Homo sapiens: one gene and its partners. The protein of the gene in region 1 purifies or fractionates together with the protein of each later gene. This does not show direct contact. Each region holds a gene or a part of one and is shown in the gene's direction. Other genes may lie near its edges. The genes, in order: BLVRA, ACTR2, OCIAD1, PCYOX1, MAP2K1, ACTR3 and PDK1.

Evidence for each region.
Region 2: the proteins of BLVRA (region 1) and ACTR2 fractionate together in Homo sapiens (co-fractionation; one large-scale study listed by BioGRID). This does not show direct contact.
Region 3: the proteins of BLVRA (region 1) and OCIAD1 purify together in Homo sapiens (affinity purification with mass spectrometry, with the first as the bait; one large-scale study listed by BioGRID). This does not show direct contact.
Region 4: the proteins of BLVRA (region 1) and PCYOX1 purify together in Homo sapiens (affinity purification with mass spectrometry; 3 studies listed by BioGRID and IntAct, with this or other methods). This does not show direct contact.
Region 5: the proteins of BLVRA (region 1) and MAP2K1 purify together in Homo sapiens (co-immunoprecipitation; one study listed by IntAct). This does not show direct contact.
Region 6: the proteins of BLVRA (region 1) and ACTR3 fractionate together in Homo sapiens (co-fractionation; one large-scale study listed by BioGRID). This does not show direct contact.
Region 7: the proteins of BLVRA (region 1) and PDK1 purify together in Homo sapiens (affinity purification with western blotting, with the first as the bait; one study listed by BioGRID). This does not show direct contact.

Annotation. Positions count from the first base shown.
Region 1 is NC_000007.14:43,785,974-43,790,222, forward strand, and holds part of BLVRA (biliverdin reductase A), read left to right. Parts: intron 1-1,930; coding exon 1,931-2,052; intron 2,053-4,249. UniProt on the Homo sapiens protein: Reduces the gamma-methene bridge of the open tetrapyrrole, biliverdin IXalpha, to bilirubin with the concomitant oxidation of a NADH or NADPH cofactor. Does not reduce bilirubin IXbeta.
Region 2 is NC_000002.12:65,244,463-65,248,711, forward strand, and holds part of ACTR2 (actin-related protein 2), read left to right. Parts: intron 1-2,061; coding exon 2,062-2,277; intron 2,278-4,249. UniProt on the Homo sapiens protein: ATP-binding component of the Arp2/3 complex, a multiprotein complex that mediates actin polymerization upon stimulation by nucleation-promoting factor (NPF).
Region 3 is NC_000004.12:48,858,161-48,862,409, forward strand, and holds the end of OCIAD1 (OCIA domain-containing protein 1), read left to right. Parts: intron 1-1,996; exon of another isoform or gene 1,997-2,043; intron 2,044-2,564; coding exon 2,565-2,602; 3' UTR 2,603-3,655; downstream 3,656-4,249. UniProt on the Homo sapiens protein: Maintains stem cell potency. Increases STAT3 phosphorylation and controls ERK phosphorylation. May act as a scaffold, increasing STAT3 recruitment onto endosomes. Involved in integrin-mediated cancer cell adhesion and colony formation in ovarian cancer.
Region 4 is NC_000002.12:70,264,160-70,268,408, forward strand, and holds part of PCYOX1 (prenylcysteine oxidase 1 precursor), read left to right. Parts: intron 1-4,249. UniProt on the Homo sapiens protein: Prenylcysteine oxidase that cleaves the thioether bond of prenyl-L-cysteines, such as farnesylcysteine and geranylgeranylcysteine. Only active against free prenylcysteines and not prenylcysteine residues within prenylated proteins or peptides.
Region 5 is NC_000015.10:66,393,412-66,396,911, forward strand, and holds part of MAP2K1 (dual specificity mitogen-activated protein kinase kinase 1), read left to right. Parts: intron 1-3,500. UniProt on the Homo sapiens protein: Dual specificity protein kinase which acts as an essential component of the MAP kinase signal transduction pathway.
Region 6 is NC_000002.12:113,931,053-113,935,301, forward strand, and holds part of ACTR3 (actin-related protein 3), read left to right. Parts: intron 1-248; coding exon 249-344; intron 345-3,226; coding exon 3,227-3,334; intron 3,335-4,249. UniProt on the Homo sapiens protein: ATP-binding component of the Arp2/3 complex, a multiprotein complex that mediates actin polymerization upon stimulation by nucleation-promoting factor (NPF).
Region 7 is NC_000002.12:172,569,135-172,573,383, forward strand, and holds part of PDK1 ([Pyruvate dehydrogenase (acetyl-transferring)] kinase isozyme 1, mitochondrial isoform 2 precursor), read left to right. Parts: intron 1-1,591; coding exon 1,592-1,690; intron 1,691-4,249. UniProt on the Homo sapiens protein: Kinase that plays a key role in regulation of glucose and fatty acid metabolism and homeostasis via phosphorylation of the pyruvate dehydrogenase subunits PDHA1 and PDHA2.

The DNA of each region.
Region 1 (4,249 bases):
GGGAAAAAGAACAGATTGAACAAATAGCAGGATTTCTATAGAATTTGAATGGAAACCCAACCATATCAATAATCACAATGTAAATTGTCTAAACGTTTCAACTAAAAGGCAGAGATTGTTAGACTGAGTAAAAAAAAGCAAGACCTAACTATATGCTGCCTATAAGAAACTAACTATAGCTATGAAAACACATATAGATTAAATGTGAAAGGTTGGGGAAAAAATGTATTATGCAACACTGATCAACAGAAATTGGGAATGGATTGTTAATATCAGACAAAATAAATTATAGGGCAAAAAATATTACCAGGAATAAAAATGGTCATTTTAGAAAGATAAAGGGGTCAATTAAAAAAAAGGACATAACCATCCTAAACTTGTATGTATCTAATAACAGAGTTTTGAAATATGTGGGTCAAAACTGATAGAACTGAAAGGAGAAATACACAGTTATATACAATTATATTCAGAGATTTCTCTACCCTCAATAATTGCTAGAGCAAGGAGACAGAAAATCAGGAAGGATACGAAGACCTGAACAACACAATCAACCAACTTGATCTAACAGACTTATAGAACACTCCACCCAACAATAGCAGAATACACATTCTTTTCAAGTGTGCCCAGAACATTAACCAAGGTAGACCACATCCCGTATCATAAAATATCTCAATAAATCTAAAAGGATTCAAATCATTTAAAGAATGTTCTCTGACCACAGTGGGATTAAATGAGAAATCAATAATAGAAAAACATTTGGCAAATCCCCAAACATTTGGAAGAAATCCTGGAAGGAGAAGACAAGAGCAGTGGGCACAGGAAGAGGGGCAGAGTCAGTGGGAAGTGGTGACAACTGGGTACAGAGGTGAAGAAAAGGGGCAAATCTGAGATGACATTCATGTTTCTATGCTCAGAGGCATCCAAGAAGTGAGTTTAAGGGATGCATGGAGATAATTTTTTTTTTTTTGAGATAGAGTCTCACTCTGTCACCCAGGCTGGAGTGCAGTGGCGCTATCTTGGGTCACTGCAATCTCCGCCTCCCAGGTTCAAGCAATTCTCCTGCCTCGGCCTCCTAAGTAGCTGGGATTACAGGCGCCTGCCAACAGGCCCAGCTAATTTTTGTATTTTTAGTAGAGACGAGGTTTCTCCATGTTGGCCAGGCTGGTCTGGAACTCCTGACCTCAAGTGATCCACCTGCCTCGGCCTCCCAAAGTGCTGGGATTACAGGCGTGAGCCACCGTGCCCAGTGCATGGAGATAAATTTTATCAGTTTTTATTATACTGAGTTGCTGTATAACTTAAAAGTCAGTTTGATTTTTCACTGTAATACTGTTCACATACAGCCTCCAGCAGTGCACTTAAATAATATTTAAGATACTGCAGTATCTTAAATGTGGAACTCAGAAGGCTGTAGTGAAGAGTCAAAGCCTCTGGATCCCACGCTGAGTAAGGTGACCAATCATGGTTTGCCCATTTGCCTCCTCTGCCAGCATCTGATGAAGAAGCTGTGCCCTCTGAATGACTCCCAGTAGTATCAGATTCATGTGTCCACTGGAGGAGGGACCCAGGGAGGGCAGAAGTACCAGGCCATGGGCTGGGTCTGGGTTAATGGGGAAAGCTCCCTCATTATTGGAGATGGGGCAGTAGAAGTGGAGAGCCAAATTGGGGGAACACTTTCTGTGGGTACTCGGAAGGTTTTCAACCTAAAGACATGGTGGAGCACCTTCAAGAACAGGTTTTGGCGGGACTGACTTCTCTCCAAGCCCCCATTTCGGGGACTGTCTCATCCCATCCTGATGCTGTGGCTTCCTGTGTGTTTTGGGCTGGCTTCCATCTTGCTCGTCGGGACCCTGCCAGCTCCTTTGTTTTGTAGTTTTCTGCTCGATGCCTACAGTGTTTTCAGACTCCACCTTGGTCCCTTGTGTTTCAGCCCGAGAGGAAGTTTGGCGTGGTGGTGGTTGGTGTTGGCCGAGCCGGCTCCGTGCGGATGAGGGACTTGCGGAATCCACACCCTTCCTCAGCGTTCCTGAACCTGATTGGCTTCGTGTCGAGGTGGCTCACAATGTCTTTGTGCTTCATAATTCATGGAAAGCCCAGTGAGGCGGATTAGCTGCAGGACATGGAGATTTTCCAGACCCAGGGCAGGGAGAGCCATCTCCCAACTGAGAACTGTGCTTAGGGTCAGCCCCATAAGATCTCAGGTTGGGATGGGTCTGGGAACTGAAGCTTGCTGGGCCTGCAGCTGGGATGCACAGTAGGTTGGCCTGGGAGACTGGAAGACAGAGGCAGGAGGGTGAGCTCAAGGCTGACAGTTAGAGAAGGGGCACAGAAAACACATGCATGGGGCTTTGGCCTGAAAGGCTTTCGGTGTGCACCGGGGAATCCTGACATAGTCATCATGACAGCCATCCTAGGTGGTCCTGGGCTCTACATGTGATATTTCCTTCTGCGTAGTGTTATTAACCCCCCAGTTTACAGATAAGGAGGCTGAACCACAGAAAGGTTAAGTAATCTGCCTGAGGTCACACAGCTGGAAAGTCTAAGAACTGAAGTTGAGCAGAAGTCTGTTTCCAAAGCCCATCTTTTAAACACCATGTGTTCTTTTGCCATTGGTAATTTTGAGCCTCACTTTTATTATTATTATTATTTTTTTTGAGACAGAGTCTCACTCTGTCACCCAAGCTGCAGCGCAATGGTGCAATCACAGCGCACTGCAGCCTTGACCGTCTGGGCTCAAGTGATCCTCCCGCCTCACAGCTCAAGTGGTCCTCCTGCCTCAGCCTTCTGAGTAGCTGGGACTACAGACACACACACCACCACGCCTGGATAATTTTTTTTTTTTTTTTGTAGAGACAGGGTCTCCCTATGTTGCCTAGACTGGTCTCAAACTCCTGGGGTCAAGTGATCCTCCTGCCTCGGCCTCCCAAAGTGCTGAGATTATAGGCGTGAGCCAGTGCACCCAGCCTCCCCCTTTTCTTTAAGGATTCATTTATCTCCAGTCAAAATCAAACTTATCACCTTGTTTCTTCTTCCCCCATGCTCAAATTTTCCACTCACCCCTGTACACACACACACACACACGCACCACTCACCAGACTAATCCTGTATAACATCATTTGTCAATATTAATTGTGAACTAGATACAGGCACCAGACTAATCCTGTGTAACATCATTTATCCATATTAATTTTGGACTAGGTGCAGGCACTGGGCTGGGCCTGAAGACATGGTAGTGAGCAAGTTAGGCAACTCTTTTTCTAGTGCTTTAGAGACATCAGATAAATATTTACACAAAGCATAAGTAACAATTGTGATAGTCTATGTAGAAATTTTTTCATGTTTTCATTCATGGGGCCATCCTCTTCCGGCCTGTCTCAAAACATGGCCCCACTTTTAAGGATTTAAAATGGGCTTGGAAGCACCAGGGAGACCCAGAAGTGCTAGAATCTGCCCTTGGGCCAGCCTTCTCCTCCCCATAAGATTCCAAGGGAGCTGCACACAAATGGGAGAGCAAAGTTAAGATCAGGCAGCACCGTAACCCCCATCGCACCCCTATCTGGAGCTGGGACCACACACAGCACTTGGGCGCAAGGCTGAAATGGGACCTTTCCTTTTCCCTTAAGCCCCAGTCCTCTGCCAGTTGGCTTCCAGGGTCAGCTCAGTGGGAACACCTACACTACCCAGGTTGTATGGGAGGATGGCCAGGTCACACCCCTGCATGACAGCCCTGCCAGTACTCACACTGTTTCCCTCTTCACATACCCTTCCCTTCCTGACCTACCTGCTAAGTTCTACCTCCTCCCCAGGAAGCTTTTCTGGTGTATTCCTTTCCCACCCTGAGTCTCCATCTCCTACTTCCAAGCACCACATTTCTCCTGGTAGTCTTGTGGTAGTGGTATGTACGTGTGTGTGTGTGTGTGTGTGTGTGTGTCTTCCTCTAGCTGACTGAGCTCATTGAAAGGCGATGATTTTAATTTGTTCTCCATGATTTCTCCTACAGCGCCTAGTACATAATAGGCAAACAATAAGTATTGCTGAAATTGAGCAATTTAGTTTGGGTGGCCCCATTAAAGAAACCTAGCATAATACTCTTTGGGAGCTAAATTTTCCTGAATGCTTTCTGCCTGCTGCAGCTCAGCTGGAGCTCTGAGCGGGCTGAGGGCCTTCTGCTTGCTAGCTGTCCCACATTCCCCCATGACTGCCACCCTTAGAGGGCTACTCTCCTGCCCCAGCCGCTGCACTGGGAGGT
Region 2 (4,249 bases), on another chromosome or scaffold:
GACATTAATATATATCATACTGATTTATTACATATCTGTTCATCTGTTCATTCATCAGTGCATCTTGTTTTTTGATGGATTTCAAAGTAAGTTGCAGATACCAGTATACTTCTCCCTGAATACTTCAACATGTGCATGTTATTAACTAGAATTCACAAATACAGATTTTTAGTTTTGCATATTCCTCATAGAAGAATCTAAACGGTTGGGTGTGGTGATTCATGCCTATAATCCTAGCACTTTGGGAGGCTGAGGTGGGCGGATCCCTTGAGCCCAGGAGTTCAAGACCAGCCTGGGCAACATGGTGAAACCCTGTCTCTACTAAAAATACAAGAATTAGCTGGGCATGTAGCCTGTAGTCCCAGCTACTTGGGAGGCTAAGGTGGGAGGATCACCTGAGCCTGGGGAGGTTGAGGCTGTGGTAAGCAATAATGGCACCACTGCACTCCAGCTTGGGTGACAGAGTGAGACCCCATCTCAAAAAAAAAAAAAAAAAAGAGTGTAAACATTTAATATTTCAGATATTTGAGTAATAAGTTAGTAAGTTATGGTAAATGAACTTCATAAGAAATTGCAACAAATTTTTACTGAGCATTTCTAGCATCTGTTTTTAACTTTGTTATACTTTTTGATGCTTTTAGTGGATTTTCCAGAGATCTGTTTGGTTTTTTGTTAGAGTCCTCACCTTGGTTTCATCTCTGATATTTTCTTTTTCTTTTTTTTTTAATTTAAAACTCATATATTTTTAAGCCTTTGTTTTAAAACATCTCATGTTGGCCAGGTGTGGTGGCTCATGCCTGTAATCCCAACACTTTGGGAGGCCGAGATGGGTGAATTACTTGAGGTCAGGAGTTTGAGACCAGCTTGGCCAACATGGTGAAACCCCATCTCTACTAAAAATACAAAAATTAGCCAGGCGTGGTGGCAGGTGCCTGTAATCCCAGCTACTCAGGAGGCTGAGGCAGGAGAATCGCTTGAACCTGGGAGGCAGAGGTTGTAGTGAGCTGAGATCATGCCACTGCGCTCTAGCCTGGGCAGTAGAGCGAGACTCAGTCTCAAAAAAATAATCTCGTGTTAATTTTGCTGCTGCTTTTTTTTGTCTCTCCATAATTAAAACTTAACGTATTGTAGCAAATATCTACTTCTGATACTAGTTTTTTTAATTGAATTTATCAACATATGTAGAAATTAGTATTATTTAACCTCTTGACTAGCTGTTCTCTAAAAATAAGTCTAAATGCTAGGACATCCTTACTTATTATATATAGAAAATGTGACTTTCAAATGTGGGTCATCTTAAGTATGCTCTCATTGGAGACAAGACTTGTGAGTATTATGCTTCATGTGTGATGGTGTAGTTTTCCAGTATACTTTAAGATTGAAAATGTTGCTCAGGAGACAATTTTAAAGGATGGGTTATTTGCCTATATCTTAATTTTTTATAACTCTACAAATTCTCATTCACCTTGGTGAGGCATATGTAGAAACAGTTTAAATTCTTATTCAGGCATATGTAGATAGAAGTTTGTGCTATTTATTAGTTGGTGTATGTATGCATTATTATAGAGTAATAAAGAATCATTTTATTTTTTGCTTCTTTCATTATGCTTTATAGTACTTACATTTATCATTTTGATATTTAGTGCAAAGAAATGTGCTGCATGCATTGAGCATTTTTCTACAAGTTTTTTTCCCCCTGATGTGCTATTTCACATATCACAGGCCTTATTTTTTGAACAATTGAGCAAAAGAAACAGATGAAACCTCATACAAAACCCTCCAAAATATGAAAATGTGGGGTTTATTTGTGCTAATGCTCTTCTTTTGGAAACATTTGTGTTAAAGGTAAGGTCAATTTATTGATTTAAACCACATTGTATGTAAAAATGTATTATCCATGATTAAACTTTCTAAGACATTGTTCTTGATAGAAAAGATTTTCTAACTTGTGGAATAAAAAGATTTATTTTGCAAGTGTCAGAAATATTAAAATTAATTATTCCCAAGTTTTCTTAAATATTATGCAAAACTTTGATCTACAGCTTTGACATAATTTTCTAGGATCTTATGGTTGGTGATGAGGCAAGTGAATTACGATCAATGTTAGAAGTTAACTACCCTATGGAAAATGGCATAGTACGAAATTGGGATGACATGAAACACCTGTGGGACTACACATTTGGACCAGAGAAACTTAATATAGATACCAGAAATTGTAAAATCTTACTCACAGAACCTCCTATGAACCCAACCAAAAACAGAGAGAAGATTGTAGAGGTGAGTTTTTATGCAGGATATGCATATGTGTATTTCTGTGATATTATGTTAAATCAAAAATTTTCTTACTGTTGCTATGGATAAAGAGAATAAAAATAATTGTTTTCCTTCAGATCTTATTAAGTATCTACTATATGCTAGTCATTATTCTAAGTAGGAAAGTAGGATAGATCAGTAAACAAAAAATCCTACTGCCATGGAGTGTATATATTCTAACAGGGAAAAACAGACCAAAAAAATTAAGTTTTTAATTTAGTGAGTTAATTAAGTTAATTAAGTTTTTATGGAGGAGCCAGCAGAAGGAGACTGAAAAGGCTAATACAATAAGCAGTTACAGAGTTAATTAAATGGTTTGTTAGAAGGTGAGTGATCCAGTTGACCCATGAGCAATGCAGGGGTTAGGGGCACCAACCCTCCCTACTCACGTGCAAACTTAACTACCACCCAAAATACTTAACTTCTAATAGCCTACTGTTGACCAGAAGCCTTACTGATAACATAATATGTATTATATACTATATTCTTAACAATAAAGTAAGCTAGAGGAAATACTGTTAAGAAAATCATGGCCGGGCGCGGTGGCTCACGCCTGTAATCTCAGCACTTTGGGAGGCGGAGGCGGGCAGATCACAAGGTCAGGAGATCGAGACCATCCTGGCTAACACAGTGAAACTCCGTCTCTACTAAAAATACAAAAAATTAGCCGGGCGTGGTGGCGGGTGCCTGTAGTCCCAGCTACTCAGGAGGCTGAGGCAGGAGAATGACGTGAACCCTTGAGGCAGAGCTTGCAGTGAGTGGAGATCGTGCCACTGCACTCCAGCCTGGGCGACAGAGCGAGACTCCGTCTCAAAAAAAAATAAAAAATCATAAGAGAAAATACATTTACTATACCTTAAGTGGATGTAGATCATCATAAAGATCTTCATCGTCATTGTCTTCACACCGACGAAGAAGAGGAGGGGTTGGTCTTGCTGTCTCGGGTGGCAGAGACAGAAGAGGTGCAAGGGGAGGCAGGAAAGATTTATTGACAAAAATCGTGTATAAGTGGACCTGTGTGGTTCAAACTTGTTGTTATTCATGGATCAGCTGTAGATGCTAAAGGCAAAATAAATCAGGTTAACGGGGAGTGGGAGGTTGTAATTGTACATAGGTTGTGAGAAGGTGATGTTTAAACAGACAGGGTAAGTGAGTTAGCCAGGGTATATAGGAGAATGGTATTCCAGATAAAGGGAGTAGCCAGTGTAAAGGTCTTAAGTTAGGAACAAGCTTGGTATATTAAAGAATAAGCAAGGAAGCCAGTGTGGTTGAGGAGAGAGCAACAGAAGATGAGGTCGAGTAAGTAATATTGGTGCCTTGTAGGCTCTAATTAGGAATTGGGCGGCTGGAAGTGGTGGTTCAGGCCTGTAATCCCAGCACTTCTGGGAGGCCGAGGTGGGCGGATCACGAGGTCAAGAGTTCGAGACCAGCCTGACCAACATAGTGAAACGCCATCTCTACTAAAAATACAAAAATTAACTGGGCATAGTGGTGCGTGCCTGTAATCCCAGCTACTTGGGAGGCTGGGGCAGGAGAATCGCTTGAACCCAGGAGGCAGATGCTGCAGTGAGCCGAGATTACACCACTGCATTCCAGCCTGGGCGACAGGGTGAGACTCAGTCTCAAAAAGAAAAAAAGGGAATTGGGCTTTTACTGTGGGTGAAATATGGGGCTGTTACAGGAAAAGGAGATGCTCAGATTTAGATTTCTCTTGTGTTGTGAGTATCCCACAAGGAGGCAAAGATAGAAGAGTTGGAGACTTTTTCAGTCATTTAAGCAAAAGATAATGATGGTTAGGATTGAAGTAGTAGTAGTAGAGATAGTGAGAAATTACCAGATTATAGGTCTGTTTTGAAGGTAGGGCTATAAATGATACGGTTCAACAAAGAAGAGGGTAGACAGTGGTGAAAAGGCCAAGGACCAGAGAGATAGGAGG
Region 3 (4,249 bases), on another chromosome or scaffold:
CCCCGCCAAAAAAAGGAAGAAAATAGTGAAGTCCAAATAGTAAGTCTTAAGACAGCAAGATTAGTTTAACACAGGGTAGAGACATACTCATTTGACTGTTTCTCTCTTACAACAAATCTCCTTGGAGATCTGATAGTCTTATTTTCCTAATGATACATCTATCGCATAAGTTGCTGTAGTGACCTGAGGTTGGCGTTGCGCTGTAATACCACTTGTGGCCTAACCACAGAATGATTGAGTAATGAGATTGATTTTCTTGTACATTTGGGTTTTTCTCGTGTTTTTTTGTTCTGTTTGTTTGTTTTTTCTTTTTGAGATGGTTTTATTCTGTCACCCAGGCTGGAGTGCAGTGGTGTAATCATGGCTTACTGCAGTCTTGACCTCCTGGGTTCAAGCAGTCCTCCTACCTCAGCTTCCTGAGTAGCTGGGACTACAGTTGTATGCCACCATCCCTGGCTGTTAAAAATTTTTTTTGGTGCAGTGGGTTTTTCCCTATGTTGCCAAGGCTGGTCTCAAACTCCTGGGCTCAACCAGTCCTTTCACCTTGGCCTCCCAGAATGCTGGGATTATAGGTGGGAGCCACTGTGCCTGACCTTTCTTGTACATTTGTGAATTTGAAAGAGTTATATGCCAGCTTCTAAGGCATTTCTTAAAGATGAATTTTTAAATCCTGGTTTCTTTTAAGTCTTTTTGGAATAGCTATACATTAGCCAAAGTAAATTTTTTGATACAAGTTTACCTCTAAAGGAAGAGGACATTCGAATAGGGTTTTATAGCTATTTCAGTATAGGGTTTTATGATTTTCTCTTAAGGAATTTCAGAGTATGTGTCATTGTTTCAAGATTTTCTATTTACTACTTTAAAAATGGAAATAATAGGTCTTTGGTACCTTCTTGAAGGTCATATGCCACAAAGAATGCAAAAATACATGAAAGTCCTTAGTATTTGTTGTTATGGTCATTTTTTAGAGCTAATTTTATTTTTAATCATTAGCGGTTGCTTCGTTTGGAGTTCTGTTTTTATAACAATGATAGATAATATCTGCATCATATTATTGATGTAAAAAAAATCTACCTTTGAAATGAATTAGGGATGTACCATACTTTTGAATGTTTGTCATCAAACAACATTTAGCATAAACTGCATCTAGTGGCCATTGCTCTGTAATATGTAAAGACTTGTCGGTACTTTGTCCTGCTAATTAATTTGAGGATTTAGATTGTAAGCTCTGTGAGGGCAGAAAGTAATATTTTTCTCATTTTTGTAATCTTTTCTATTATTGTCTGCATAGCATAGTACTTTACACTGTATCAGAAATTGAGTATTTTGGTTTAGGCTTCTATGGTAATAGAGGTTAAGAAAGGAAATTTGGTAGACCTTTAACATTTGCTGGATTTTGACATTTTTGATTTTTGACTGAAGTCTTCAAGTTCTGTTACATGACACAAGAATGTGAAATGATTTTTTCTTTTTTTGGGAAAAGCTGGTTTTTTGTGTGCTTTATATAATTTAAAGAAAAGACTTGTTATGAAATAGTTTCAGTCATTTTCTGAATTATTGTTGAAATTAGTACAGGGTAGATTCACATGGTCAGAAAGTGTCACTTAAAGTTTTCACCTTTAGCTTATGTGGTTGATATTTATCTAATTAGAAATTAAGACCCAGAAATTTAAAAAATTCAAGCACATATTCCATTAGCTGCCAGAGCAATGTCACCACACATCCTGTAGCTTCTAGAAAACCATGTAACATATACTCATGAGGGAATGAGAGCAAGGGGAAAAGGCAAAATGTGAAACATAAGGATATATAATGTCTTAGTATAATAATGAAATAATTTTGACTTCATGTATTCCCTGAAGAGTCCACACTGTGATAACTGCTGCTTTATATTGTTATGATTACTCACAGACAGAAGCTATGTGGAAGAGAAGCAAAAAAGTAAAGGAGTAGAATAGACAGCGGAGCATGTTTTAAAATGTAAAATATAGAGTACCTGTAAAATGTAGTAGTATTTTCTTCTTATAGTAGTATTTACAGCCCTGAGAGAGAAGATTGAATTAATTACAACTTGAACACTTGACCATTTCTACTGCTGTATTTTTTGTGAAAAACGAAAATTCAAATGTTTGTTTTATTATTTCCCACTATTTTTTTTTTTTTTTGTATATGGCTTAATATGTGCCACACTTAGGTAGTATGGTAAAGATGTAAAGGTACCTAGGCTTTGGATCTAAACAGACCTATACTCAAATCTCAGTTCTTGTTAGGGCTTGTACCTTGGGCAAGTTACTAATCTTTTTTCTCACCATTAAAATGAGAATTGTGTTTAGAAGTTTGTTATGAGGACTAACTATTTATGTAAAATTCTAGATACAATGCATTTGTCCAACCCCAAGTTCACAAAAGTCTGGTCATCCCCTTTTTGTAATTATAATTTGACTCTCATGTGCTTTTATTCAAATGAGAGAGAAACATAACTTTTCATCATAGCAACAAACTTAAAATAATGTCTTTTACTTATTATTGCTTGGAATCATCAATTATTTATGCTTTTTTCCTAGTCAAAGTAAACAAGTATGGAGATACTTGGGATGAGTGAAAAATTACATCATTGGACATGAAGGAGTTTCAACATCCAGCTTCATCTAGGTGGTCATGATTACCTGCATGCTTTGAGCTCAGCAGCAGTCTTCATAAACACATTTAAAACAAGATCCTGGGTTTTTGTGGTTTGACTTCTATGGTGTTTTAAAAAAACACAGATTTTTAGTGTTAATATTGTGTAAATGTACTCACCTTAGGGATTCATTTGAATGATGGTATTATACCATGATTGTATACAGTTTGTGAAATTGTTGCAAGGGCAAAGATAACTCTTAAAAAACCGTCGAGATTACAATGCTCTAGAATCAGCATATAAGAAAATAAATGATATCTGCATGTTGAATTGGGGTGGATGGGGGGAGCAAGCATAATTTTTAAGTGTGAAGCTTTGCATCAAGAAATTATTAAAAAGCTTTTTTTCTCCAGTATTTTCTGTATTATCTTAATGTTTATGGCAAATAAAATGTAAAGGAACATGCAACAGCCCTCATCTTCCTTGATTTTATGGTTTTATTGTTTGTAATTTATTGATTTATTTTTAAGCTAGTTATAATCATGTAGGTATAGGAAATAAAGTCATCTATAATATTTCTATAATATGGCTATAATATGGCTATAAATCTATAATATGGCTGGAGGCAGTGGGCAGTGGTTCATGCCTGTAATCCCAGCACTTTGGGAGGCCGAAGTGGGAGGATTGCATGAGTCCAGGAGTTTGAGACCAGCCTGGGCAACAAAGCGAGACCCTGTCTTTACAAAAAAATAAAAATTAGCTGGCGATGGTGTCGTGTGCCTGTAGTCCTAGTTACTTAAGAGGCTGAGTTGGGAGGATCAGTTGAACCCAGTGGTTCTGGGTTGCAGTGAGCTGTGGTCACACCACTGAACTCCAGCCTGTGCGACTGAGTGAGACCCTGTGTCTAAAAAAATAAAAATATAATGAATGTGATTTATGTAGATAAATTGATAATATAGTAAATAGGTAAATGCCTTAAAAAGCATTTTTAAAGAATTTGTAAATTCTAAAACAATAAAAATTTGGTATACATCACAGAGACTGATATTATGTTAAAAAGAAAAATTGGTGTACAGTGACCCTTCGTATCTGTGGGTTCCGTATCTGCAGATTCAATCAACTGCAGATTGAAAATATTTGAGGGAGAGAAATGGATGGTTGTCTGTACTGAACTCTTGTTATTCCCAAACAATACATTGTAATAACTATTTACATAGCATTTACATTAGGCATTACAAGTAATCTATAAATGACTTAAAGTATATAGGAGGATGTGCATTGGTTATATGTAAATACTACACCATTTTATAGTGGACGTTAGGAACCTGGACCAATAGACCCCCACCTAGTCACATTTTAGAAAGAACACATGGGATGGGAGATACCGCAGCCATCTTTCAGTCTATCATTTGGCAGCTGTAATTCACATCCCTTTCCTGAGGACCTCTGTTTCCTATGCCATTACAAAAGCTCAAAGTCTAGGAGCTGATCATCTAATCAGGATAAGGTATGGATGAGGCTCCTTGGGTAAAGCTTCATGAATAAAAGCGTCATGAATACCATTTCTCTGTCTGAAGGCCTGAACTTAAGAACTTATCTGCTTTGTTCACCTGTTAGGCATAACATCAC
Region 4 (4,249 bases), on another chromosome or scaffold:
TGGCCATGTTGCCCAGGCTGGTCTTGAATTCCTGGGCTCGAGTGTTCCACTCACCTGGGCCTCCCAAAGTGTTGGGATTACGGTTGTGAGCTCCTGTTCCCAGCCTTGTTTTTTTTTTTATCTGTGGCTTGCTTGAGATGTAGAGAATTGCCCTTTGAGAAATTAAGAAATTACTTTTTTTTTTTTGAGATGAGTTTCACTCTGTCACCCAGGCTGGAGTGCAGTGGTGCAATCTCGGCTCACTGCAACCTCTGCCTCCTGAGTCCAAGCGATTCTCCTGCCTCAGCCTCCTGAGTAGCTGGGATTACAGGCATGTGCCACCATACCCAGATAATTTTTTTATTTTTAGTAGAGATGGGGTTTTACCATGTTGGCTAGGCTGGTCTCAAACTCCTGGCCTTAATTGATCTGCCCGCCTTGGCCTCCTAAAGTGCTGCGATTACAGGCATGAGCCACCGCACCTGGCCTAAGAAATCACTTTTGAAGTGAATTCAAGGTATTACAGAACTGGGAAAAAGAACCAGTGAGGGGATACATAGGTTATACTGTTTTTGACTTTAAAAAATAATTTACGGGCCGGGCGCGGTGGCACACGCCTGTAATCCCAGCACTTTGGGAGGCCAAGGCAGATAGATCTTGAGGTCAGGAGTTCGAGACCAGCCTGGCCAACATGGTGAAACTCCGCCTTGCTAAAAATACAAAAATTAGCTGGGTGTGGAGGCGCAGCTAATGCCAGCTACTTGGGAGGCTGAGGCAGTAGAATCGCTTGAACCCAGGAAGCGGAGGTTGTGGTGAGCCAAGATCAAAGTATACACAAGGTGGAGAAAGACCTATGTAACAGTAGTAAACCATGACACTCGAAAGAGGGCTCAAGCTTGTGGTAGGCAATACTCGAAAACAGTGCATTCATTCATTCTCTGCTGTTGGAGGTACTTGAGTGGAAATCCTGCAGCCCCTGACATCAGCACTAGCTAGCTTAATTTCCACTTCTGCACATACATTTATGTAGTTGTTCTGGTTGGATGCCATTCTTAACTAATTTTTTTTTTTTTTTTTTTTTTGAGACCAAGTCTTGCTCCGTCACCCAGGCTGGAGTACGGTGGTGCAATCACAGCTCACTGCAGCTTTGACCTCCTGGTCTCAAGTCATCTTCCAGCCTCAGCTGGGACTATAGGCATGTGCCATCATGCTTGGCTAATTTTTTAAATTTTTGTAGAGACAGGGTGTTGCCATGTTGCCCAAGCTGATCTTGAACTCCTGGGCTCAAGTGATCCTCCCACCTTGGCCTCCCAAAGTGTTGGGATTACAGGCGTGAGCCACCGCGCTCAGCCGGATGCCATTCTTTACTCCCAAGTCCAACCTCTTATCTCACTTTTTCAGCAAAGCATTTCCTTAATGCTTCAATCAACATTCATCTTTCTTTTCAAACATCCCTTATTATACGGTGCACACTGTGTGCTTGTGTTCTATGCTACGCACAGTAACTAGAATGTAGTAGATGTTTACTCAGATGTTTGTGGAATTTAAATCTCTGGTCTGCTGATGGCTTCCTGTTGAGATATCTTGGCTTGTAGACTAGGTTAAAGCTTATTCTTCTCTCTCAAGTTAGTGCATTTCTGGGGACTTGTAAGATCCTTAACACTTCTTGATCTGAGACTGATAGACTCACAGGGAAAGGCTTTATAAACACCCTTTCTTCCTTCCAGTTACTCCTACCAAATATTTTGAGTCAATTTTTGTTCTTTCATTTCCCAAACCCACTCTATCTTGAATCCCATCAGCCTTTAAAATACATCCAGTATTCCACTACTTCTCTCCAGGATTACTGCTACCACTTTGTTCCAAGTCACCACCACTGTCTCTTGTCTGGATTGCTAGAGTAGCCTCCTATTATAGGCTGAATAATCCTCTCCCCTGCTGTCTGCCACAAGATGTCCATGTCTTAATTCCTGGAACCTGTGAATGTGTTACCTTTTGAGGTAAAAGAGACGTTGCAGATATGGTTAAGGATGGGTAGATTATTCTGGATTATCTAGGTGGGCCCAATATAATCACAAGGGTCCTTAGAGAGGCAGGAGGATCAGGGTAGGTAGTAGGAGATGTGATGATGGAAGGAAGAGATTGGAGTGATGCTAGGAAGGGGTGTGCGTCCACGAGCCAAGGAATGCAGGTGGCCTGTAGAGGCTGGAAAAGACAGTCTTCCCTCAGAGCTTCTAGAAGGAACCAGCCTTGTGCACACCTTGATTTTAGCCCGGAGAGACTGACTTTGGTCTTCTAATTTACAGAACCGTAAGATTATAACTTTTTTTTTTTTTGTTAGTATTTATTAATCATTCTTGGGTGTTCTTCGGAGAGGGGGATTTGGCAGGGTCATAGGACAATAGTGGAGGGAAGGTCAGCGGATAAACATGTGAACAAAGGTCTCTGGTTTTCCTAGGCAGAGGGCCCTGCCGCCTTCCGCAGTGTTTGTGTCCCTGGGTACTTGAGATTAGGGAGTGGTGATGACTCTTAACGAGTATGCTGCCTTCAAGCATCTGTTTAACAAAGCACATCTTGCACCGCCCTTAATCCATTTAACCCTTAGTGGACACAGCACATGTTTCAGAGAGCATGGGGTTGGGGGTAAGGTCATAGATAAACAGCATTCCAAGGCAGAAGAATTTCTCTTACTACAGAACAAAATGGAGTCTCCTATGTCCACCTCTTTCTACACAGACACAGTAACAATCCGATCTCTCCTTCCTTTCCCCACATTTCCCCCACTTCTATTCGACAAAACTGCCATCGTCATCATGGCCCGTTCTCAATGAGCTATTGGGTACACCTCCCAGACGGGGTGGCGGCTGGGCAGAGGGGCTCCTCACTTCCCAGACAGGGCGGCTGCTGGGCGGAGGGGCTCCTCACTTCTCAGAGAGGGCGGCTGGTCAGAGAGGCTCCTCACCTCCCAGACGGGATGGCGGCGGGGCAGAGACACTCCTCAGTTCCCAGACGGCGTCGCGGCCGGGCAGAGGCGCTCTTCACATCTCAGACGGGGCGGCGGGGCAGAGGCGCTCCCCACATCCCAGACGATGGGCAGCCGGGCAGAGACGCTCCTCACTTCCTAGACGGGATGACGGCCGGGAAGAGGCGCTCCTCACTTCCCAGACTGGGCGGCCGGGCAGAGGAGTTCCTCACATCCCAGACGATGGGCGGCCAGGCAAAGACACTCCTCACTTCCTAGACGGGGTGGCGGCTGGGCAGAGGCTGCAATCTCAGCACTTTTGGGAGGTCAAGGCAGGCGGCTGGGAGGTGGAGGTTGTAGCGAGCCGAGATCACGCCACTGCACTCCAGCCTGGGCAACATTGAGCACTGAGTGAGCGACACTCCGTCTGCAATCCTGGCACCTCGGGAGGCCGAGGCTGGCAGATCACTCATGGTCAGGAACTGGAGACCAGCCCGGCCAACACGGTGAAACCCCGTCTCCACCAAAAAATACGAAAACCAGTCAGGCGTGGCGGCGCGCGCCTGCAATCCCAGGCACTTGGCAGGCTGAAGCAGGAGAATCAGGCAGGGAGGTTGCAGTGAGTCGAGATGGCAGCAGTACAGTCCAGCCTTGGCTCGGCATCAGAGGGAGACCGTGGAGAGGGAGAGGGGGAGGGGGAGGGGGAGAGGGAGAGCTGTTTTTTGTTTTGAGACAGAGTCTTGCTCTGTCACCCAGGCTGGAGTGCAGTGGCACAATCTTGGCTCACTGCAGCCTCCGCCTCCTGGGTTCAAGCAGTTCTCTGCCTCAGCCTCCCGAGTAGTTGGGATCACAGGCGCCCACCACCATGCCCGGCTAATTTTTGTATTTTTAGTAGAGATGGGGTTTCACCATCTTGGCCAGGCAGGTCTTGCACTCCTGACCTCGTGATCCACCCGCCTCAGCCTCCCAAAGTGCTGGGATTACAGGTGTGAGCCACTGCACCCGGCCGTAAATTTGTGTTGTTTTAAGCCACTAAGTTTGTGGTAATTTGTTATAGCAGCAGTGGAAAACCAAGACACCTCCTAAATCATCTGCCATTACTGTTATATTGCTACCATTTGTTCTCAGGTTAGCAGCCAAAGTAGTTCTTTAAAATCTAAGGCTCATCACATCACTCCACTAACTCAGAAACCTTCAGTGGCTATTTCATTAATAGAGATTTATAGCCAAAATCTGTTTTGTGACTGAGAAGACATGACAGGATTCTGTGCTCTCATCCCTTACTTTTAAATTTGTTTTCCCCAAAAT
Region 5 (3,500 bases), on another chromosome or scaffold:
GTGATCTGCCCTCCTTGGCCTCCCAAAGTGCTGGGATTACAGGTGTGAACCACCGCACCGGCTATTAATCTCTTTCTTTAAAACAATACCGTTAATCCAGTTGCAGTAGTGAGGCAGGGTACCTCTCAAGATCTCACTTTTTCTTTGACCTTGGGCAAGTCCTTTCTACTTTCTGACTCTTGGTTTCCTTAATCTGTAAAGTGGAGGTGATAATTGTTTACAAAATCTTTACCATGGTGGCCTACAAGGCCCTACCTGACCAGGTCCTTAGTTTTCTTCCAGTGTTCTCTTCACTCATGCACTCTAGCCACACTGTCCTTTGTGCTGTTGGGTTGTAGGTTGGGCACATTCTTATCTTAGAATCTTTGCATTTGCCATTCCTGCTGCCTGGAAAGCTTGTCTCTCAAATACCGTATGACTTGCTTCCTCACTTCCTTCACCCCTCTGTTGAAATGTCTCTTCACAGAGGCCATCTTTGATCACTGTAATACAGAACTCCCTGTCATTTTCTACCCTTTGATTTTGCCTTATTTTTCTTTGTAGCGCTGATCACTAACTGATGTTACATCGTGTATAAGTATTTATCTTCTTCTGCCACCCCAAGTGTAAGCTTCATGATGGTTGGGGCTTTGCCTTGTTCATTGCTCAGTGTGTAGAACAGATTCTGGCACATAGAAAATACTCAGTAGATACCTGTTGATTAAATGATTGACTAGATCCTACCTCAGAGGAATACCTTTGAAGATGTATAAAATTTCTTTGAAGGCTATAAGGTGCCGAATAACCTTAGGAGGGTTCACTGCTTGGCCTTAGTAGCGTTCATGATTTTGGATTTTGAATTGTTTCTATGTAACCCTGAAACACTCAGACTTACTTATTGCATTCAGGGTGTAGTTCATAGCATCAGCAGTTCTGCCAGGTTTGTAAGGAACACACATCTGTTAGAGTGTGAAGGCCCTGGAGGAAGAAAGGTTGAGACAGGTTGATGTGCTTTTTTTTGTCTCTTATGGCTCTTTCTGAGATGTGTACCATGATGATAACCAGGAACTTTTTTTTTTTTTTTTTTTTTGAGAGACAGGGTCTTGCTCAGACACTCAGGCTGGAGTGCATTGGTGCTCACTATAACCTTGAACTCCTGGGTTCAGGGAATCCTCCTGCTTCAGCCTCCTAAGTAGCTAGTACTACCGGCATGTACCACCATGCCTGGCTAATTTTAAAATTTAGAGATAGGGTCTTGCTGTATTGCCCAGGCTGGGCTCAAACTCCTTGCCTCATGCAATCCTCCCTCCTTGGCCTCCCAAAAGTGCTGGGTTTACAGGCATGAGCCACCATGTCTGGCCTGATAAGTAGGAGCTTTTGAAGTGGTTTCACACTGATTTTGTAGTTTTGAACTTGGATGCTTCTTTTGGGTAGTTGATGCAGTAACTAATACTGGTGCTGTCTTTCAGAACAGCTTCATGTGAAAAAGGCCTGCTTAAGCCTGTGTCTTTGGGAAGAACATCTCTGCCGCTGTTACAGCAGATACAGTAATAGCAAAGAAAGTCTTAAAGATGATTTAGCCCATGGCAAGGAAATATATGGGACTCTTGTTTGAATATAAACACTCACAGAATTCCAGTTTCACTTATTTATGCACCTTTCAAAGAAAGGAAGAAGATACTGTGGTAGAGTACAGTAGTCCTCCCTTATCTGAGTGGCATATGTTCCAAGACCCCTAGTGGATGCCTGAAACCACAGATATCAATAGTACCAAACCCTGCATATACTGTGTTTTTTCCTATGCAGTATATGCCTATGATGAAGTTTAATTTATAAATTAGGCATAGTAAGAGATTAACAATAATAACCAATAAAAAAGAATTATAACAATATATTGTAATGACAGTTACATGAATGTGGTTACTGTACTCACTGTGGGTAACTGGAATTGTCAAAGCAAAACTACATTTAAGTGGGTACTCCTGTAGCTGTTGGCCCTGCCTTGCCTATCTAGCTTAATTTTCCTCTGTTTTTCCGTTCACCTGCTGTGGTCCACTTACCACTTTCTTTACTCTCCTCACTGTGCCACCAGCATACTGTTGCTTACCTTCTTACATCTGTCTGGTCTTGCTGACATGGTTTTTTTTTTTGTCTGAAATGCCCTCCTCCACTTTCTTGCATGATTTTTTTTTTTTTTTTTTTGAGACGGAGTCTCACTCTGTCACCCAGGCTAGAGTGTGCAGTCACATGATCTTGGCTCACTGCAACCTCTGCCCACTGGGCTCAAGTGAGTATCGTGCCTCAGCCTCCCGAGTAGCTGGGATTACAGGCGCACACCACCACGCCGGGCTAATTCTTGTTATTTTTAGTAGAGACGGCGTCTCACCATGTTGCCCAGCCTGGTCTCGAACCCCTGACCTCAGGTGATCCACTGCCTCAGCCTCCCAAACTGCTGGGATTACAGGCGCCTGGCCCTCTTGCATGTTTTTATTTTTGTTTTATACTTGCCACTACACTTTAACTTCTGTGAAAACAGGGACTGTGATTGTCTTGTGTACTGGTATTTCTCCACCGTCTGCTGTGGGGCCTAGAATAAAATAAATGGTACCCATCTTTTTTGTTTTGTTTTGTTTTTGGAGATGAGTCTCACTCTGTCCCCAGACTGGAGTGCAGTGGCGCGATCTCGCCTCAGTGCAACCTATGCCTCCCGGGTTCAAGCGATTCTCCTGCCTCAGCCTCCCAAGTAGCTGGGCTACAGGTATGCGCCACCACATCTGGCTAATTTTTGTATTTTTAGTACAAAATTTAAAAATGATGGCCTCGATGTCGTGATCCGCCCTCCTCGGCCTCCCAAAGTGCTGGGATTACAGGTGTGAGTCACCGTGCCCGGCCCTTTTGTTTTTTTGAGATGGAGTTTCACTCTTCTCATCCAGGCTGGAGTGCAGTGGCATGATCTTGGCTCACGGCCACCTCCGCCTCCCACATTTTCCTGCCTCGGCCTCCCAAGTAGCTATGATAACAGGCACACACCACCATGGCCGGCTAATTTTTTTATTTTTAGTAGAGACAGGATTTCACCATGTTGGTCAGGCTGGTCTCGAACTCCTGACCTCAGGTGATATGCCTGCCTCAGCCCCACAAGGTGCTGGGATTACAGGCGTGAGACACCGTATCTGCCCCGGATGGTACCGATCTTTCAAGATCTTACATAAAGCTTATCTCCAATGTGTGTAGTCTTTTCTGAGCAACTCCATGCCATGCTCAGTTACATCACTCCCTACTTAGTTATAATAGTTCTTTTTTCTTTTTTTGAGACAGAGTTTTGCTCTTGTTGCCCAAGCTGGAGTGCAATGGCGTGATCTCGGCTCACTGCAACCTCTGCCTCCTGGGTTCAAGCGATTCTCCTGCCTCAGCCTCCCAAGTAGCTATGATTATAGGCGCACACCACCACTCCCAGCTAATTTTTGTATTTTTAGTAGAGGCAGGGTTTCACCATGTTGGCCAGGCTGGTCTTGAACTCC
Region 6 (4,249 bases), on another chromosome or scaffold:
AGTGGTATGATATAGGCATTCAGGGTATTTTTTTTTTAAAATGTGAATTACCATACTGTTTTCATATATGTATGGATGTTTGAATTCTCTATAGTTTTCCTTTGATCTCTGTGTCTGTCTTTCTACTTGTAAATTTAATGCATTTTAAATAAAATGTTTGAAATAAATTACTTCTCATTTAAAAATTGTCAAGAAAGTTATCAAAATAATCTGATATTATCTATTTAAAATGTTATTTATTTCAATAGACTGAACCTCCATTGAATACTCCAGAAAACAGGGAATATACTGCTGAAATAATGTTTGAGTCCTTCAATGTTCCAGGCTTGTACATTGCTGTGCAGGTAAGCAAGTTCATACTTTCTAAGTTTGATTCTTACATTTTAACCTAGTTTAATTTGCTGCCTAAAATACGTACTTTTTTTTTTTTTCTGCAAAGGTTTAAACATAATGTCAAAGCATGTTATACTTCTCTCCTGAATTGTTAATTTAGAAGTAATATTATGGGAAGTGGAGATATTTAGTCAGGAAAAGAGAAGTGTTAAAAAAGTAAGTTAGTGGTGTTTGGGTATTTCAAGGGCTTTCATAGGACAGAAATGAAGGAACTAATATTTATGGAATGCTTTCTCTGTGACAAGAACATTGTATATATATTTATCCTTGTAAATAATCCTTTATCATTTATCCTTATAAATCTTTTTGTCCTTTATTGTAGTCTTTTTTGATTGACTTATCTTTAGGTATATTTGACACCCTAATATTTCACTTCTCTTAATTTGTACGTTTATCTGTATGGAACAGCTTCTCTCCCACCCCTCAGGATCAGAGCTGACCTCATTTTTTTTTTTTTTCCCTTGTAGCAGAGGTAATCCCTGACATAACACAAATGCTTTATATGTGTATTAATTCATTATTTCTATTAAATGTAGATATTTTTGTTTCTGTTTTTTGTGGAGGAAGAAAACTAAAGCTGGAAGGCACTTTATTCATAATTAAATGGTTAGCTGTGATACCAGGCAGCTGAGGTCTGTCTGACTTTGCTCTTTCTTGGGATCACACTGGTTTTTGTAACTCCACGGTACACAGAATCAATAAGTGATAATTATGGATGAATATTTTAACTTGGATAGCAAAGAACTTTTTAATGTTTAATGCAATCCATAAATTTAATGAACTGCCTTTTAAATTCTCTGCTGCTAAAAATATTTAAGGAGTCACTTAAACCTGTCATGAACTTTATAGAAGAATTCAGTCTTGAGTGGGAGGCCCTTTTTTAGTTCTTAGAATATGAATAAAATGAGGAGTTGGGAAAATTCATCTTTCACTTGGGAGTTTTTGCTTCTCATCCTATGTTAAATATAATAAACTTATGTTTAACCATATTGTCAGGTAAAGCTTACTTTAAAACACTGGCATCATGAGCTTTGTTTCATTCCTCTGGAGTCGTAATTTGGTTTTTCAGTGATTTCCTTAGTGGCCTCTGAGTGCTCTTAATTTCATTATTTAATCTCTGTTCTGTTTTGTTGATGTTCAGTAGTCAATAACATTTCTGTAACATGATGTGCTGATACATATCTATTCTAGTTTGGGACCGTAACTGTTTACAAAAGACTTGTAAAAGTGATCAGAGATAATTCTTGGTTGTAGATGATAGTTTTGAACTTACTTATAGAGGAAGGATATCTCATAATGAAGTCTAAACAGTATATATATATATAACTAGTATTAGGATGGAATTTTTCATTTTAAGATTGTCAAAAAATAATGTATAGTTCTGTTAGCCTATAGTGATTATGTGGTGATTGTGTTAATATGATCTTGTGTTCAGATAGGAGGGTGACCTAGATAGCTTTCTAGGTCCCTTTTAGCTATTACAGTCCAGGTAGGTAAAATAAGTCCAGTATAAGTTTAGTTGTTTTTAATTACTAGTCATATACTTTGTTTGAGGCTTGGATTGTAAGAAATTTAGTTTTTTAAAAAATGAACTATGTTAATTTCTTAATTCTCACACTTAAAAAAGAATTGTGTTGTATTGTCTGTACCAAGGTTTTTCATAGAAAAATTTTATCAACGTTGCTCCATAATTAAATCATAGTAGTATTTGGAGGTGTGCGATGGCGTTTTCTGTATGTCATATAGTCCTAAACACATGTTACCTTAAAAAAATTTGAAGGTAGGCCTGGCACAGTGGCTCATGCCTATAATCCCAGCACTTTGGCAGGCTGAGGCAGGTGAATCACAAGGTCAGGAGTTCAAGATCAGCCTGGCTGAGATGGTGAAACCCCGTCTCTACTGAAAATACAAAAATTAGCCGGGTGTGGTGGTGGGCACCTGTAATCCCAGCTACTCCGGAGGCTGAGGCAGAGAATTGCTTGAACCCAAGAGGCGGAGATTGCGGTGAGCCGAGATCGTGCCACTGCATTCCAGCCTGGGTGACAGAAAGAAACTCTGTCTCAAAGAAAAAAAGAAAAAGAAGGTAATCTTTTAGTAATAGTTGTTTATAGCCATATATGTATTGAATAACTGGAGGTAGGGTGGTTGTGTACTTTCTGCCTTACATTGCAGTTTGTAACAGGCCAGCCCACGTGGACATAGTTTAAGTTCTGGCAAGTTAGTTCTATACAATTTTTTTTTTTTTTTTTTTTGAGATGGAGTCTTGCTCTGTCGCTCAGTCTGGAGTACAGTGGCATGATCTCGGCTCATTGCAAGCTCCGCCTCCCGGGTTCACGCCATTCTCCTGCCTCAGCCTCCTGAGTAGCTGGGACTACAGGCGCCCGCCACCGCACCTGGCTAAGTTTTTGTATTTTTTAGTAGAGACGGGGTTTCCCCGTGTTAGCCAGGAAGGTCTCGATCTCCTGACCTCGTGATCTGCCCGCCTCGGCCTCCCAAAGTGCTGGGATTACAGACAGTTAGTTCTGTACTGTTTAATGCAATCTTCCACATTTTTAGCTTTAGGACAGAAATAGCCTTTATAAAATATGTAAATCTTACAAATCATGCTCCTAAAAGCAAATGTAAACCTCTAAGTTTGTCTTAATAAAATGTAGGGAGTGAGCTATTTTATTGCATAATACAAAATTAATTTTATGTATTTTCTTTCCACAGATACTACATTTAAAATTGAATAAAGTACTCCAGGGAACTAGTTTTTTTTTTTTCGATTAACTCTTTGTTTTTTTGTTTTTTTTTTTTGTTTTTTTGCCTTTCTTCTTTCTTTGTGCTCAAGGCTGTTCTTGCCTTAGCTGCATCTTGGACCTCAAGACAAGTAGGAGAACGGACGTTGACCGGTACGGTAATAGACAGTGGAGATGGTGTCACTCATGTCATTCCTGTGGTAAGGCTATTTTACAGTTACTGAACAGAACATGAAATAACACATCTGGCAAAGTTAAATTATACGAATTAATGTTACTTTTAAAAAACTTTAAATGCTGCACTATAATTTGGCCATTTGTCCAGTTATAGCTATGTTTTGCTCACCGTTTAAAACTTTTATAAACAATTCAAAATGTTTCTTTTACTGTAGGTTTGTACTGCAATTAAGAAAATTACAAATTGCAATATCTGGAATGGAAGTATATTAATGGCTTTCATTCTGTTTTCCAGTTGGATGTGTGTTAGCCATTTGATGACCTCTTTTATTCATAATTAACAGATTTCAGACTGGTGTACAGGGTAACTGTATAACAGTTAGTTTTAAGTACCTGAACTTTAGTAGATGCTTTATGGTTTGTACTTAATAAAGCATATTAAGAAAAATGCATCAAATTAGATTGTCAGAAATAACATTTTTCTTCCAAGGCCGTTGTGCTTCAGTTCTTAATGATACATCAAGTTTTAAAAAAATTATGCCTAATGAATTCAAAATGACTACTAGAATTCATACTGTTTATTATTAAATGGGTATATAGAGAAAGGTTTATCTTTTAAAGTAATTTTTATATTATAATGAATATCACTTAAGGATTTACATTATTTTGAACTTTTTTTTTTTTTTATTCTCACTCCAGTGTTTAATGCATCAGGCAATGTCTGTTAAAGATTACATCCTCAGGGTGACTACCTTTGGATTAGACTCCTGGTCCTCCACCACTTTCACCCTCATGATATGTCATAATGGTTTTAGTAATAACTGCCATTGTTTAACGATAGCTTAAGATAAAATTCATATACCATACAATTCACTTCTTTAGAGTGTACAGTTCATTGATTTTTAGTATATTCACAAAGTCCATCCGTCCCCACAATT
Region 7 (4,249 bases), on another chromosome or scaffold:
TTGTTTATGACTATTGGGAATAACATACTAAGTGTCCAGTACAGTGGCAACGTATTACATATAGGTGCTCAATAGAGTTATCTTTATGTTTTTATAAAACAATATTTAGAAGAGTGATTCTCAACTTGCTACCCTCAAAGGACCAGAATTCTTTTTTTGGTCTGGCTTTTCTTGGGAGGGGGAGGTCATTTATATTGACTTACAGGGTTTCTGCTGTAATCTTTGCTCTTTACAACAAAATTTGAAAACAAATTATGCTACTAATATTGAGAGTATCTTTTTTCCCCGCCAATAATACTTGCTGGTTGACAAGAAAATGGGTGAGGAGTGAGGGGCACAGGTCCTGGTGGGTGAAAATGATTGCCCTCTATCAGAAGCTTGTAGTCTCTCTTCAGTTGTGTTTCATCAGCCAGCAGCAAACTAGAGGAAAGAGGGGGTGGCTTTCAATCTGATAATGTAAAGGAAAAGTGCACTGAAACACAGAAAAACTGACCGAATATCTTAGAACAGCAGCAGAATGTTCTTTCTTCCAAGACAGCAAAAATGTATTTAATACCTTACAAAATCTTTTTTAAAATATTTATTTTATTTTTTGTAGAGTTGAGGTCTCACTCTGTTACCCAGGCTGTCCTTGAACTCCTGGCCTCAAGCAGTCCTGCCCCAGAGTGTTGGGATTACAGGCATAAACCACTGCACCTAGCCCTAAAATCTTTTTATCCAAGTAGTTAAACAAGTAGTGATGGGCACTTCAAGCATTAACACGAATTTTTTCCTTGAAATTCCAGTGGCATAAAGATCTTGTGCCCTATGATTGAGGCACTCCGTATTATATTGTACATAATGTCAGTAATAATGGCTTTCACCTGGAACCTAATCTTAACCTGCCTTTGGTGGAAATGATGGAATCTCCTCCATAAGAGGACTCAATCGCAATTGCTGTGCCAGGGCCACACACTCTTACTTCCAAATTCGGATGCCTTTTTAGTTACATCTAGTTTATATCATTTTCTACTGCAATGCTGAATGTCATGATATTGTTTAAGGCTTCTGATATGTTGGCACTGTGTACCCTATTTCCTTTAGAAATTAGTCAAAGCAGCTTTACAATGACAATACCCTTAATTTCAAACTAGAGATAAAGGGATTCATTGCTCCATCAAATACGACCATCGCTGTTACTACTATATGAAAAAAATTGCTTTCCTTTAAAGAAATTTATGACAGTTTTTTAAATAGTTCTAAAAATATAGCTGAAACTACATTTTCAAAAATGTTTTGCCCATCATTTACTAAAATTATAAAAGTGTTTGAACAGAGTTTTCTGCTTTAATGTAACTAGTTAAAAGTGTTTTGAAGTCTGACTTTGGAAAATAAGCAAAATTTAGTTGGAGTCTTTAGGTCAGAATATCCTTCAAATCCCCCCCAAATTGACTCCATTAAAAAAAAAACTTTAAATGTGGTTATAAGAATTGTGATTCTTTGGCATATTTCCATCAAATTTTAAAACTTCAAATAGTGCATATGTACTTGAAAATTACACTTTCTCTTTTCTAAAAAGCTGTATTTTTAATACAACCCTAATGTATTTCAGAATGCAATGAGAGCCACTATGGAACACCATGCCAACAGAGGTGTTTACCCCCCTATTCAAGTTCATGTCACGCTGGGTAATGAGGATTTGACTGTGAAGGTAAATGTGTTTAATGGTTTGTTTTCTTTTTTTTTTTTTTGTAATTGATGAACAGACATGCAAAGGTAACCATACGCATAATTTCTAAAAGACATAATCTACTCTCAGGGGAAAAGAATCTTGTCTGTAATAGATAATAAGCACATTGCTTCATTGAGCTGGTGGATTATAGTTATCCCTTGAGTCTTTTCTATGCAGGTCCCCCGTCGAGGTGATTCAAGTTAAAATAAATCTTGGAGACAGACAATTTATCATTAATATCTCTTTGATAAGTAAGATCTAAAATATTTGGGTAGTTGCAGTATTATGGAGATAGTATTTTATATATAATTTAAAAAATTTTAAAACAGTGCTTTCTAATCTACTGGTTTCATTTGATTCTCATGACGTAGGTAATTTTATCCTCACTTTTACAGGTGTGGAGACTAAGACACAGTGATTAGCTCAGGATCACACAGGGCAGAAATGCTATGGGACATGATATCCAGTCTTCTGTCCCCAGTGCTAGGCCTTTTCTATTACATTGTTCAGGTGGCCCAGTTTCTTCTTTTACATTTTATTAAAAATTGTTTTCTGTCACCCAGGCTGGAGTGCAGTGGTGTGATCATCACTCACTGTGACCTTGAACTCCTGGGCTCAAGCAATCCTCCTCCCATGGCTTCCAGAGTAACTGGGACTGCAGGCTGCAGGCATGCAAGCCTGGCTAATTAAAAGAATTTTTTGGTGGGTAGAGACTAGGTCTCACTTTGTTGCCCAGGCTGATCTCAAAACACCTGGCCTCAAGTGATCCTCCCACCTTGGCCTCCCAAAGCACTAGTATTACAGGTGTGAGCCACTGTGCATGGCTCCAGTTTAAGAGTATGATAGTGTTTTTCTTTTTTAATAATCATTTAAAAATTTATATTAAAGTAATAAATGCAGAGACTATAAAAATTCAAATGTGTCAGTTCCTGGCCCTTTGTAGGCCTCATTACTCAGAGATTCTTAGTCTTTCTTTACTTTTTTTTTTTTTTTTTTTTTTTTTTGAGATGGAGTCTTGCTCTGTTGCCCCAGGGTGGAATGCGGTAGTGTGATCTCGCCCACTGCAACCTCTGCCTCCTGAGTTCAAGTGATTCACCTGCCTCAGCCTCCCGAGTAGCTGGGATAACAGGCACCCGCCACCACGCCTAGCTAATTTTTTGTATTTTAGTAGAGACAGGGTTTCACCATATTGGCCAGGCTGGTCTCGAACTCGACCTCGTGTTATCCGCCTGCCTCGGCCTCCCGAAGTGCTGGGATTACAGGCATGAGCTACTGCACCTGGCCTAATGTTTACATTTTAAACAGTAAATATTACCTTTCTGTTATAGTAGTTGAGGAGTTAGCTCTCTTTAATAGAGCACCTGCTCCCCTCCCCTCCCCTAGCCCAAGGGCCAGTTTCCCTATACTATTATCCCAATATTTAAGTTTGTATATGAAATTCGAAGCTGAGAATAATCATCCTGCAAAATTTTGAAGGCATCCATTGTTCCTTTTTTAAAAAAGGTACAATTCAGTGGAATTCATAAGGTTATTCAAGTATTGCCGCTGTCTCATTTTAGAACATTTTCATCAGTCCTAAGAAAAAACCCAAGTACTCCGTCAGGCACAGCAGCTCATGCCTGTAATCCCAGCACTTTGGGAGGCCAAGTTGGGCAGATTGCCTGAGGTAAGGCGTTTAAGACCAGCCTGGCCAACATGGTGAAACCCCATCTCTACAAAAAATACAAAAAATTAGCTGGGTGTGGTGGCAGGCGCCTGTAATCCCAGCTATTCAGGAGGCTGAGGCACGAGAATCGCTTGAACCCAGCAGCAGAGGGTGCGGTGAGCCAAGATTGCACCACTGCACTCCAGCCTGGGTGACAGATTGAGACTCCATCTGAAAAAAAGAAAAAAAGGAAAATACGCAGTACCTATGAAGTCACTTCCCGTTTTTCTCTCTTCTAGCCCTTGGCAACCACTGATCTATTTTCTGTTTGTGTATTTCTCTTTCTGGGCATTTTATATAAATTTAATCATGCAGTATGTGGTCTTTTGTTACTGACTTCTTTCACTTAGTATAATGTTATAGTATGCATTTGTACTTCATTCCTTTTTATGACCAAATGATATTCTGTTATATGGATATAACACCTTTGGGTTATCCATTCATCAGTTGATAGACATTTGGTTTGTTTCTATTTTTTGGTTATTATAAATAATATGGCTATGAATGTTTGTGTACAAATTATTGTGTGAACATGTGTTTCAGTTATCTTATGTATATACCTAGGAATTGAATTGCTGAATCATAGGAAACTCTGTTTAACTTGAGAAACTGCCAAACTGTTTTCCAAAGGACCTGCACCATTTTGCATTGTCATCAACAATGTGTGAAGGTTCCTGTTTTACCTCGTCCTTGTCAACAATTGTAGTCTGTCTTTTTTATTATAGACATTATTGTGAGTGTGAAGTGGTATCTCAGTGTGGTTTTTATTTGCATTTGTCTAATGACTATGATGTTGAGCATCTTTTCATTTGCTGATCGGCCATTTGTGTATC